Linked DNA regions of Homo sapiens: regions 2 and 3 are each linked to region 1. Evidence: fine-mapped expression QTL. A gene starts in region 1. Each other region holds a variant in brackets. All regions are shown on one strand. Distances are from middle to middle.

The links. PIP is the estimated chance that this variant, and not a neighbour inherited with it, causes the effect. A credible set is the group of variants that fine-mapping cannot tell apart.
Region 2: its variant is the best candidate, but not a certain one, in a credible set for the expression of GJA3 in whole blood (TOPMed, PIP 0.71).
Region 3: its variant is the best candidate, but not a certain one, in a credible set for the expression of GJA3 in whole blood (TOPMed, PIP 0.60).

Annotation. Positions count from the first base shown.
Region 1 is chr13:20,159,421-20,163,420 of GRCh38, forward strand. GJA3 (gap junction protein alpha 3) reads right to left here and starts at 1,632. Exons shown (of 2, transcript NM_021954.4): 1 at 1,470-1,632. RefSeq lists silencers at 1,363-1,452, 1,613-1,692, 1,923-2,282.
Region 2 is chr13:20,118,909-20,122,937 of GRCh38, forward strand. It overlaps LOC105370101 (a long non-coding RNA gene), which reads right to left and starts at 881. Exons shown (of 3, transcript XR_941719.3): 1 at 797-881. The variant G/A (reference allele first, on the strand shown) is at 1,819.
Region 3 is chr13:20,124,738-20,128,737 of GRCh38, forward strand. No RefSeq gene overlaps it. Among named protein-coding and RNA genes, the nearest start is that of LINC01072, 24 kb to the left of the region's middle. RefSeq lists an enhancer at 2,888-2,937 and a silencer at 3,388-3,607. The variant G/A (reference allele first, on the strand shown) is at 1,512.

The DNA of each region.
Region 1 (4,000 bases):
CACTCCAGCCTGGGTGACAGAGCGAGACTCCATCTCAAAAAAAAAAAAAAAAAAAAAAAAAAAAAAGGCTGCGATAAACGTAATTTTTCGTTTCAAATGTAGTGTGTACACGTTATTTTAGCTAAGAGAAATGAATATAATAAGTTAAAATGTGAGTAACATTCAAGAAAACTGGGTCAAAAATATTTTCCTTATTGGCAAAAAATTTTGTTACCCGCCATTCTTTTAAGACAGCTTTCAGCCAGTTAACGGTTCCTGGTTAAGAAACAGTACTGTCTGATTTGTTAGAGTAGTACCGTTTCGTGAATTACTTTCCACTACAGCAACACATGCATTGCCCTTATGAGATGCTTATCTCGATATGAACCAAACTGCTGAGCAGGTGGAATCTGTGCCAAACTAGCTGATGTTTACTTTGAACACACTGATATTCGGAAAATAAATCCCTCTTTTTTCCTCTTTAATCTTTTAATGTTTGTCTTGCACATGGATGGACCGCCAGTGAAGTGATGCGCACATCATAAATCACCATGGTTTTTAATTCCTGGGTGATGAGACCCATAATTCGCTTGTCAGCTGTTTGTATAGAATCATTTTTAAATGGCATGTTTTGGAGACATCTTGATAAAATAAAAACTGGAGTTCTAAAGTTGCAGTCACATATTCACGAACCGAGAACTCTACATGGTAGGATGAATTTTGCTCACTAGTGTGGAGTCGGCAACAAAGCAAATGCAGCCGCGTCACTGCCGTTTGTTTTCTCAAGTCTCCTACGGGAAGGGGCTCGGACAGTGCTTTTCCACTCCTCTGCAAATTCCTTATAGTTGAACACATCATAACAAACATACAGGTCGAGAAATCTGGTCGTGGCATTAATAGCTACAGTGTTTCTTAAAAATAAAAAGTTTTAAAAAGTTTCTGAAAAAAATGTAGGCGAGCCAACCTTGTTTCTAAACAATCCCAACAGGACTTTTAGGAGCACGGCGATGCTGAATGCCCGTGGACGGCTGGGTGCGCGCCGTTAGCTGGCGCGGTGACATCTGCTTAGAGTTTTCAAGCATTTCAGCATCGCTAGGAGCCCTACAGCCTGACGGTCCGGGACAGCCCGGCTTCCTCCACCCGAGGGGGAAAACAACCCCAGGAAAACAACTTAAACTCGGCCTTGGACTGTCCATCAAGGGAAGCCAAACGAGGCGCTGCTCTCCAGACCTCCAGGAGCAAAGGAGGAAGATCAATTATTCCAAAAGTTTCTCACAAATTTCCCGAGCTCCCCACAACTTTTTGAAGAATCCTGAAAGAATCCTAGGGGGCTGGGAGCCGCACACGTGCCGGGGCTCGGCTTCCCAGCTCGGCAGTCTCAGCCCGCTGGGCTCGCCCGGCAGCTCCGCTGCGCCGCCGACCCGCCCGTCCCCGCCCCGCGCTGCCCTCGGCCCCTGTGCCTGGCCTCCGGGGCGCCCGGCCCGCCTTACCCCGCTCTGCCGCGGCGGCGACCCGGGTGCGTTCCTCCGGAGCAGGGCTCCCGGCCGCTCTGAAAAGAATTCCTTTCACACGTGCGGTGCTGCTTCACGCGTGCGCCCCGCGCCAGGGCCCGACCTCCCCGCCCTGATCGCCATCCCTGCAGCCCCAGTGTGCGCTGCGCCCGACGCCCCCAAGCTGCAGCTCAGGACGCCGCGCCACGCCCCCGCCGCCTCCGAACAGCCCCGCCCCGCGCGCTTCCCAGCACGCACACCTACCGCCCCCGCATCCCTACCCTGTACGCGCAGCCACAGCACTCGCCCGCGTCCGCATTCCACACCCTACCCCGCGCGCACGTCCATGCCTAGCGCCTGCATCCCCATCCCGCACCTGCGCGGGCCCTGGGGATGTGGACGCGGGGGCTCTTCCCTGCCGCCTACGCACTCCGGGGCATGCCCGCGCGGGACGTGAGAGGAGAGCCGAGGGCTGTTGGGGCGGGCCCGACCCGCTTGCGGGGCGCCCACCGCACGCAGATGCGCCAGCCCGCGCCCCGCTCGCGCCTGTCCTGGGCTTCGCAGGCCCGGCGAGGTAGCTGCTCTCCGGGCGCTCCCACGGTCGGAGGCGCGTGGGCGTCGGGCACCTAGGTCTCGCCCGCCTGCAGCCGCCTGGGGACGCGGGTTCCGGACGGCTGGCGCGGGGCGGGGCGGGGACCACCGAGCAGGAAGTCCCCGCGGAAGCGCCGCCGGGCACAGCGTGGGTGCTGTCGAGGAGTGGCGCCCGGGCGGGGCGGGAGGTTATAAATAGCGGCCGCCATCCTGCTTCTCTTCAGACACACTTAATTTAGCCGGCAGGCACACGGATGCTTATTTTTAAAAAAAGAACTTGTTTTATTGCGCTCGAGGTGACCGGGAAGGTGTCCCCGCGGGTCACTCGCTCCATCTGGTCCTGGAGACGAGATGCCAGGGCGAGGCCTAACCTGCCTGCTGGCGCCCAACGAAGATTTTAACGTTTTCTGTTCCCTTCGGGGTGGTTTTACCACGCTTGAGAGGGACGCCTACCGCGGAAGGCCGCGGACCGAGGGCGGCATCGCGTCCTTGTCTGCTGTCTGGGCACAGCCTAGAGAGGCCGCGGGTCCCCTCCCCGTCCCCCAAGGTCTGGAGTGGGGTTTGACCAGCCTGGGATATTAACAAATATCGGTGGACTGCATTTCGGTGATCATTCCACAAGCTGAAATGGCTTCAAAATCACCTTTATGAGTAATAAGTTTATTCCAGGAATGTGGCAAAATGCAAGTCTGATAGTTTTCGTGTCTTCATGGAGCAGCTTCCGTCGGCTGCCTTCGTTAGCGTTTAGATCTACTCGGATTAGCAGTTGGCTTGCCCTGAAAAATGCGTTTGTTCTGCTGAGATCTGAATTTAAAGTTATCCCAAGGAGGAAAAACTAAGCTCCTAAAGGCGCATCTAAAATATCTTCTCCCTTTGGGAACTTTGCGGTGTATGTATGGAGTAGGTAGTAGTTACGGAGACTTAGTTTTTAATTTTTAATTGAAAAATGCTACCTTTGAAGGTCTTAAAATACTTGAATATTTTTCTCATTTAAAACATTTTCTCTGAGAAGCACAGGAATAGTTTTTTTTTTTTTGTTGATCACAAAAGCACTAGGAATTGTTAATATTTGTAGTCTGTTTGCCAAATGCTATTATTGGTATTCTGAGGATAAAAATGGAAATATAATATTGTAATAATTTTAAAATTTTTATTAAAATATAGATTTTAAATTATATTATGTAATTCGAACAAATATTTTACATATATGTTCATACAAGCATTATTTACTATAGCCAAAAGGTGTCCATCAATGGATGAATGGATAAACAAAATGTATTGCATACCTACAGTGGAATATTATTCAGCCTTAAAAAGGGAGAGCCCCATCACATGCTACAACGTGGACGAACCTTGAGTACATTATGCTAAATGAAATAAGCCAGTCACAAAAGTCACAAATACTGTATGATTCCATTTACATGAGGTACCTACAGCAGTCAAAATCATAGAGACGGAAAGTAGAAGTGTGGTTACCAGCAGCTGGGGCAGTGGGAAACGGGAAGATAGAGTTTCATAGGTACGGAGTTTTAGTTTGGGAAGATAGAAATAGTTTTGGAAGCAGATGATGGTAATGGTTGCATAACAATGTGAATGTACTTAATGCCACAGAACTGTACACATTAAGAAAGGTTAAATGGTAAATTAAAGGTTATGTATATTTTACTACCATAAAACAATTTTTAAAGTGGTATTGTGTAAAGACCAGCACAACTAAGAAGCTAGCAGTTTCTTTACACTTGTCATACTGTACAATTTCTAGGTAGACAACTAAGATGTTCATCTTATGGTTTAATGTTTAGTTGTAAAGGTTGTTTGCTTCTCATTTGGTTCCAAGAAAGAGTATTTAGGCCAATTTCAGGGAGAAATATGTGTATAGATATATTCATATGTCAAACTGATTAGTGCTGAATGTCACATTTCCATATTCTAATAACATT
Region 2 (4,029 bases), 40 kb before region 1:
ACCCCTTCCCCGCGGGGTGCCCCTCCTCCCGGTGTCGCCTCCTTTCAGGTGCCTGCCCCTCCCCCATGTGTCTCCGCCCACGTCCGCCCCACCCCCACGCGTGTCGCCCCCGCCCCGTGTCCTCCCCCGCCCCTGTGGAAGGGAGGCTGGGGCTCCCGGGACCAGCAGGGAAGCAGCTGGCAGAGAACGTTGAGTGTTCTCTCTGCCAGGGCCTTCACCACCCTTTTCGGGGCCCTCACCCCGACCCACACCGCTTCCATTCTTGGGTGCAAAGGGCCTTCCTTAACAGTCGGCGGCAGCTCTGGGGCCGGCGCATTTTTTTCTGTGGGGGACACCCGGCACAAGAAGGGTGGAGGAATGGGGCTGCGCGTCACTCCCACAGCTTCTTAGAGAGCCGTTCGCAAGGAGGACCGAGTGTCACGTGAGTGAGCTGGAGGAGGTCACGTTACCTTCCTCCTGTGAGAGGCTCAAACACAGCTCAGGATTTTACCAGTATGGAGAGAAGAAACCTTCAGGCGGGGCGCGGTGGCGCTCCTGTGGCCCCAGCTACTCTGGAGGCCGAAACAGGAGGATTGCTTGTGCCCGAGTCGAGGCTGCAGTGAAGCCGATTGTTTCACTTTACTCCAGCCTGGGCAACAGAGCAAGACCCTGCCCCGACCCCCAAACACACACACACACACACACACACACACACACACACACACACAGAGAGAGAAAGAAAAAGAAACTTTCGGGAACCGGACAGCTTTTCTGTGCACTGGAAGGCACTCACCCCCCTGGCCTGGTAGACTCCTACCCATGAATCTGATGTCAGCTCAGACGTCTTCCTCCAGCTGCCTGTAGGACGCCTAGACCAGAAAGGGCGCCTCTAGATGCCCTCCTAGTTCTCAGGCCTTTTTCTTCATAGCACGTGTCACCGTTTGTGAGAACAAGTGATTTCTATGATTGAGAACTGTCTCCCCTTCTCGTCTGTGAGCCCTGTCAGTTCGGGGTGTCTGATTCTGCTCCCATGCTCAGTACCCAGAGGCTGATACATAGTATGCACTCGATAAAAAAAGGTTTTTGAGTGAATGAATCAATGTATCTGATCCCAGCTCTGCCTTTTACTAGCTCTGTGACACACTCAGATACTTAGCGTCTCTGAGTTTTACCTTCCACATGTGCACAGTGGTGCTAAGTGTTAAATAAGATTTATGGGAGGCCATTGAATTGGGCTGAGCTCCTGCACTAGGCCCCAGTAGGCCAGACCAAAATGGAATCACTTGTGCTAAGTGCCACGTAATCAAACTGAAACTTAAACAAAACAGGAAAATCCCCCACCAGGGCCAGTTTTCCTGAAAAAATAGGAGACTACCAGCAACCAGTCAAAAGGGGGCCAGTCCACTTGAGCCTGCATAAGAGAGGTTTCCTCCGCTTAAACTCATACAAGGAAATGTGGAGGGGTCCAGGTTGTTGGCGTTTTGAGCAAAGAATTGAACAAAACGCACAAACAAAGCAAGGAAAGAAGGAAGCAACAAAAGGAGAGATTTATCGAAAATGAAAGTACGCTCCACAGGGTGGGAGCCGCTGGAGCATAGGGGCTCTTTTTACAGAATTTTCTGGGGTTTAAATACCTTCTAGAGGTTTCCCATTGGTTACCTGGTGTACACTCTATGTAAATGAAGTAGTGACCTGCAACCAGAGGCTGAGGTGAAGTTACAAAGGTTACACCCGATGCAAGCCTCTGTTTGCAAAGTGAAGTTACAAAGTTACAGTTCTATGCAAAGGAAGACTTGGCCCACAATCAAGCTGATTGGTTGTGGGAAGCGACCAATCAGA[G/A]GCTGAAGTGAAGTTACAAAGTTACAATCCTATGTAAACGTCTGATTGGCTGCCCTCAGAGACACTTTCAATTTTCCATCTGCCAGGCAGAAAAGGGTGGGGGTTTGCAAAGGGAGTAGCCTCCGGTTTTTTGTTTGTTTTTTCTTTTTTGAGACGGAGTTTCACTCTTGTCGCTCAGGCTACAGTGCAACGGCGCGATCTCCGCTCACTGCAACCTACGCCGCCCGGGTTCAAGCGATTCTCCTGCCTCAGTCTCCCGAGTAGCTGGGGTTACAGGCGCCCGCCAACACGCCAGACTAATTTTTGTATTTTTAGTGGAGACGGGGTTTCACCACGTTGGCCAGGCTGGGCTGAAACTCCTGACCTCAGGTGATCCGCCCACCTCGACCTCCCAAAGTGCTGGGATTACAGGCGTGAGCCACCATGCCCGGCTACCTCCGGTTTTTTTGTTACTTAGGTGTGAAAAGTTGGGGTTTTCCTTTTGATTTAGTTCTAGGAAGTCAGCGTGAAATCGGCCTTAGGTTCCCTGCCTCCAGACCCTATTCTCCGCCTCAGAAAGTCACCCAATGATAACCAATGCACTTTTCTCACCACACGATTTCCTCATTCCTGCTTGAGCTGCCTTACCAAAGCCGATTGTTCTGCAACACCCAGCCGAGTGCCTTCTGTTTTGTAGTCTGGAGGCTGCCTGTTTCATACATTGCTAATAAGAGTCAATTAAATCTTTAAAACTCAATTTGTCAAAATGTTGTTCTTTGGTGTCAGAGACCAATACTGTAGGGAATTTGTGTTCATTGACTGAGCTCAAGTACATAGAACAGCTGGAGGGAAGAGACGCGCAGGGCAAGGTATGAGGTGGGGGCTGCAGGTGCACCACATTCCCACAACTTGGAAACTCTTCCAACCTGCTTGTTCAAGAGCTTTTTTAGAGCTTGATTTCTAGTCCCCTCCCCTTCTCACAGGTCTAGGGGTGAGGCTGAAGGATCCAACCTCCTACTTACCTGGTCTTTCCGGTGACCAACCCCATCCTGAAGCTATCTAAGGGTTCACCCTAAGTCACCTCAGTAGCATAAACTCAGATGTGATCAATAGGTGCTTCATTATGAATAACAAAAGACACTACTATCACTCAGGAAATTCTAAGGGCTTTAGCGGCTCTGTGCTAGGAACCAGGGACAAAGACCAAATATATTTCTCTAAATGTACCCTATCATCCTAATGGGCTCAAGGTGGTATCTTATTGTGGTTTCGATTTGCCCTTTCCCCAGTGATTACTGACATTCAGCATCTTTGGTGCTTATTAGCAATTTGTATGTATTCTTTGGAGAACTGTTTATTCATGTCCTTTGCCCATTTTAAAATTGGGTTGTTTGGGTTGTGCGTGGTGGCTCCTGCCTGTAATCCCAGCATTTTAGGAGGCCGAGGTGGGCAGATCACCTGAGGTCAGGAGTTCAAGACCAGCCTGGCCAACATGGTGAAACCCCGTCTCTACTAAAATTACAAAAATTAGCAGGGCATGGTGGCAGACGCCTGTAATCCCAGCACTTTGGGAGGCTGGGGTGGGGGAATCACGAGGTCAAGAGATCGAAACCATCCTGACCAACATGGTGAAACTCCGTCTCTACTAAAAATATGAAAATTAGCTGGGCATGGTGGCACGTGCCTGTAATCCCAGCTACTCGGGAGGCTGAGGCTCGAGAATTGCTTGAACCTGGGAGGCAGAGGTTGCAGTGAGCCGAGACTGTGCCACTGCACTCCAGCCCCAGTGACAAGAGTGAAACTCAGTCTCAAAAAAGAAAAAAACCAAAAAAACAAAAATTGGGTTGTTTATTTTTTTGTCATTGAGTTTAGGAGTTTTTTGTTTTTTGTAGTTGAGGGTTTGTTGTTGTTGTTGAGTTGCTTATATAGTCTGAATATTAAACCCTTATCAGATATATGATTTACAAACATTTTCTCTCATTCTGTGGGCTGCCCTCTGTTGATAATGTCCTTCGATACACAACAGTTTTTACTTTTGATTGATTTGTCTATTTTTCTTGTTGTTTGTGCTTTTGGTGTTGTAGCCAGGAAACCACTGATGCTAAATCCAGTGTCATAAAGCTTTCCCCTTGTTTTATTCTAAGAGTTTTACAGTTTTAGCTTCTACATTTAGGCCTTTAATTTTTTTTTTTTTTTTTGAGACAGATCCTCCCTCTGTCGCCCAGGTTGGAA
Region 3 (4,000 bases), 35 kb before region 1:
TTGGGAGGCTGAGGCAGGTGGATCACCCGAGGTCAAGAGTTTGAGGCCAGCCTGGCCAAAATGGTGAAATCCTGTTTCTACTAAAATACAAAAAATTAGCCAGGTGTGGTGGTGAGTGCCTGTAATCTGAGCTACTCAGGAGGCTGAGGCAGGAGAATTGCTTGAACCTGGGAGGCAGAGGTTGCAGTGAGCTGAGATTGCGCCACTGCACTGCAGCCTGGGCAACAGTGTGAGACTCCATCTCAAAAAAAAAAAAAAAAAAAAAAAAAAAAAAAAAAAAAAAGAAATAAAAAACAAACCTGTGCTTTTAAACCTCTTACCTTCTATGTTTTACAGTCATTCACTCATTTGTTCATTCATCCATTCATTTGTTACTTCAACACATATTTATTGAACACCTACTGTTCACCAGGCACACAGTAGGCTACAATTGCTCTGATGTTGTAAGATAATGCACTTATTTTCTATATGAAGGATAGTGATATATGCATATTTTCAAAGAGATTTTTGTTTCATTTATCACATGGTAGCCAGTACAGTTGCCAGAGAAAGTAACTGAAGACAAACAATTCTGCCGTTGTTAGGAATTTATTGTCAGTCACAGAGCATGTGATCTGGCTAAATATAGACTTCAGAATTTCTAAGAAACAATACATGTAAGATAATTCATTAACTCCCTACTACTCGTTTTCTTTATCTCTTTGGGTAGTCCAGTTAATAGTAAAGTGTTATTGAAAATAAAAATTTACAGGTTTTTAGCTCTGTCCTGTTCAATATTTTTACCAATGACTTGAATAATGACAGAGAAAGTCCATGTACTTCATTTTCCAGTGACGCCAAGTTAATACAGTAAATGACTCAACTAGTTGGGCTGGCACCCAATTAACAAGATGATTCAGCGAGGACAGTGTTGGATGTTCCACTGAGGCTGGATGAAAAATGCCCATTGCAGGGGTCCCAGAATGCAGAGGCTTTTCTGGGCAGCTGTTCATGTGAGGAAATCAAATGAGATAGTGTAAGTGAGAGCAGTTTGTAAACTGTGCATTTACAAATGTTAGATATTTTATCAGTAAAAGTCCTGGGATTTCGTTGTCTACAAGCCCATAGTGAGCCCACATGGAGACAGAGGCAGCTGAGAAGGAGTGGTCCGGTGAGCAGACACAGAAGGAAAGAGAGCAACAGAAAAGCAGCCGTGGGCAAAGCCCCCAGGAAAAATGCTGTGGGCAAGAGCAACTGATGGATGCTAAAACCCAGGGGGAAATTGTGAGGAGACAGGCTTTGCATAATCTCAGAGTATTTCCCCAAGTTGTTAGCTTTATAGTAGAGAAACTGGGAAGATGCCCCGTAACCAAACAGCCAAGGTGTGCTTAACAAAGTCACTATGGTATCATGCACCCCTTGGTGTGATGCACTGAGAAGGGCACACTTCATTTCTGTGGTCATCTTGCCAAAAATGTCAGACGACCAACCACCTAAAAAGGAAGCAGTTAAGTAACTTTGGGAATTATCTA[G/A]GTTGCAGGTATATTCGTGCCTGTCTTTGCCTTGTAAATAATGGACATTATTGGCTGTCATTTTTGTTTGTTTGTTTGTTTGTTTGAGATGGAGTCTCCCTCTGCTACCCAGGCTGGAGTGCAGTGGCACGAGCTCAGCTCACTGCAACCTCTGCCTCCCAGGTTCAAGTGATTCTCCTGCCTCAGCCTCCCATGTAGCTGGGATTACAGGCACCTGCCACTACTCCCAGCTAATTTTTTTTTTTTTTTTTTGTATTTTTAGTAGAGATGGGGTTTCACCATGTTAGCCAGGCTGGTCTCAAACTCCTGACCTCACATGATCCATCCGCCTCGTCCTCCCAAAGTGCTGGGGTTACAGGCGTGAGCCACTGTGCCTGGCCCCAGGAATCTATTTTTAACAAGGCCTCCAAGTGACTCTTGGGTAAGCTAAAATTAGAGAAGCAGTAGGCTACTATGAAACGGAGCCTCTAGTTTTAGGAAGTGCTCAGCTCACACAAACGTGGGTAGCATCGTTGCTCAGCGTCATCTCTTTGGACTGCAATCCCCTCCCAGTGATCCTGGATTTCTGGATGCGGCTGTTTTCAAAGCGCAGGGTATTTTCAGCAGGATCTCACCATAGTGGGCCCCACCATGCCCAGGCTGAGAGCTCTGCCTGCTCTGTTAGTGAGGAGGTAGGGGTGCCGACCCGCCTTTCTGACCCTACCCCCTCCCTTCTCTCCTCTCACCCCCCTCCTCTACCTCTCACCACACCCAAACCTCCTTTCTTGATGGCAAGCATCGCTTCTGTACCCCTGCGGCTCCCTTGGCTCTAGTGTTAGTCACAGCTTAGTGGAGGAGCTGTGGGCTTGCATCTGAGGACCTGGGCTTCAGCTGGGGGTCTGCCATTTACCAACCGTGCTTATTAACCCACAGTCCTTCCCGGAGCCACTGCTTATGTTTTCTGCATCCTGGTGTGACCTCAAGCAAGTCTTTAGGCCACGTTTTTTCCTTCAGACCAAAGCTTTTTTTATTTTTTATTTATTTTCTTTCTTTCTTTTTTTTTTTTTTTTTTTAGACAGGGTCTCCTTCTGTTGCCCAGGCTGGAGTGCAGTGGCGCCATCATAGCTCACTGCAGCCTCCACACCCCCCACCCTCCTCACCCTCACTAGTAGTTGGGACTACCTACAGGCGTTGCATCACCATGCCCGGCTAATTTTTTTTTAAACTTGTTTTGGAGGCGGGGTCTCACTGTGTTTCTCAGGCTGATCTTGAACTTTTGCACTCAAGTGATCCTAACACTTCGGCCTCCCAAAGTGCTGGGATTATAGGCGTGAGCCATGTGCAGGACCTGGACCAAGTCTTGATTCTCTCTGGTTCCTCCCAACTGAAACATCAGGATGCCGCCCCGGGTGTCCATGGGGCTGGGGAAGTTGCTGAGCAACCTTGCCCTGCGAGAGCGAAGGCGGGCGTGTCCCTCGGGGGCGTACCCCGAGTGGGCAGCAGGGCCAGCCCGCGCGTCCCTCAGGGTCAATGCTGGGGCCCTGAGGGTGAGGTCAGCTGTGAGGTGAGGTCTGGTGGCCGAGGGGAGGTGCCCAGCGTGCGCGTCCGCATCCGGCGGGCGACAGAGCAGCCCCGGAACAGGAGCTTCCCGGCACCGGCCGTGGCGTGGCGCCCTCCGCTGGGCCGTTCTCCCCCGCAGCCGCTAAGTCAGCATCGCCTACTTTCCCACTCTCGAGTTTGCCCCTCTTTGCTGCCCGGCAGCTGGGTGTCCCATGTCCCCTGCCCGCCAGTGTGCGACCGCGGCCTCCCGCGGGGCGGTGACGGCCCCTCTCCTTCAGCCTGACCGCCGCCAGCTCCCTCGGCGTGTCCGGGGTGGCCAGGCCTTGTTTAGAGTAGCTCCAGCGTTTGAATCGCGCAGGCACAAGAAGGCCGTCTCCTCACCGCGGGCCAGCGGGGCCGGCCAGGGCCCGGGCGGAGGGGGAGCCCGGGTTCCGCGGTCGGGTTGTGGGGCCGGCGCTGACCTCACCGCATGGGCCCCTGCGGCCGCCGTGGCTTCTCACGCGGCCTGACTTTGGACTCGAGTGCAGGCTCTTAGCTGAATCTCTGTGTAGACAGGGTGGGTGGGACTCCGCCCTGGGGTGGCGCTGGGGGCTCGGGTCTCCCGCCGCAGGCCTGTCAGCGGGGCGCTTCCCGTCGATTCCAGGAGCGCCCGCGTCTCTGCTCAGCGCCACGAGTCCAAGCGTGGGGGAGGACGAGACTTTCAAGGCGGGGGGTGACAGTGCCATCCAGCCCAGAATACCCACCCCCAGTGGCGGGCTGCCGTGCCCAGGCCCTGATCCCTGCCCCTGCAAACATCACTTTCTATCGCCCACGGGGCTCTGCAGATGTGGCCAGGCTAAGGGTCCAGAGTTAGGGAGATTGTCCTGGATGATCCGGGCGGACCCTAAATGTCATCAAAGTGTCCTCGTAGGAGAGGGAGAGGAGGCGACCGTGGGGGCAGAGGCTGGAGG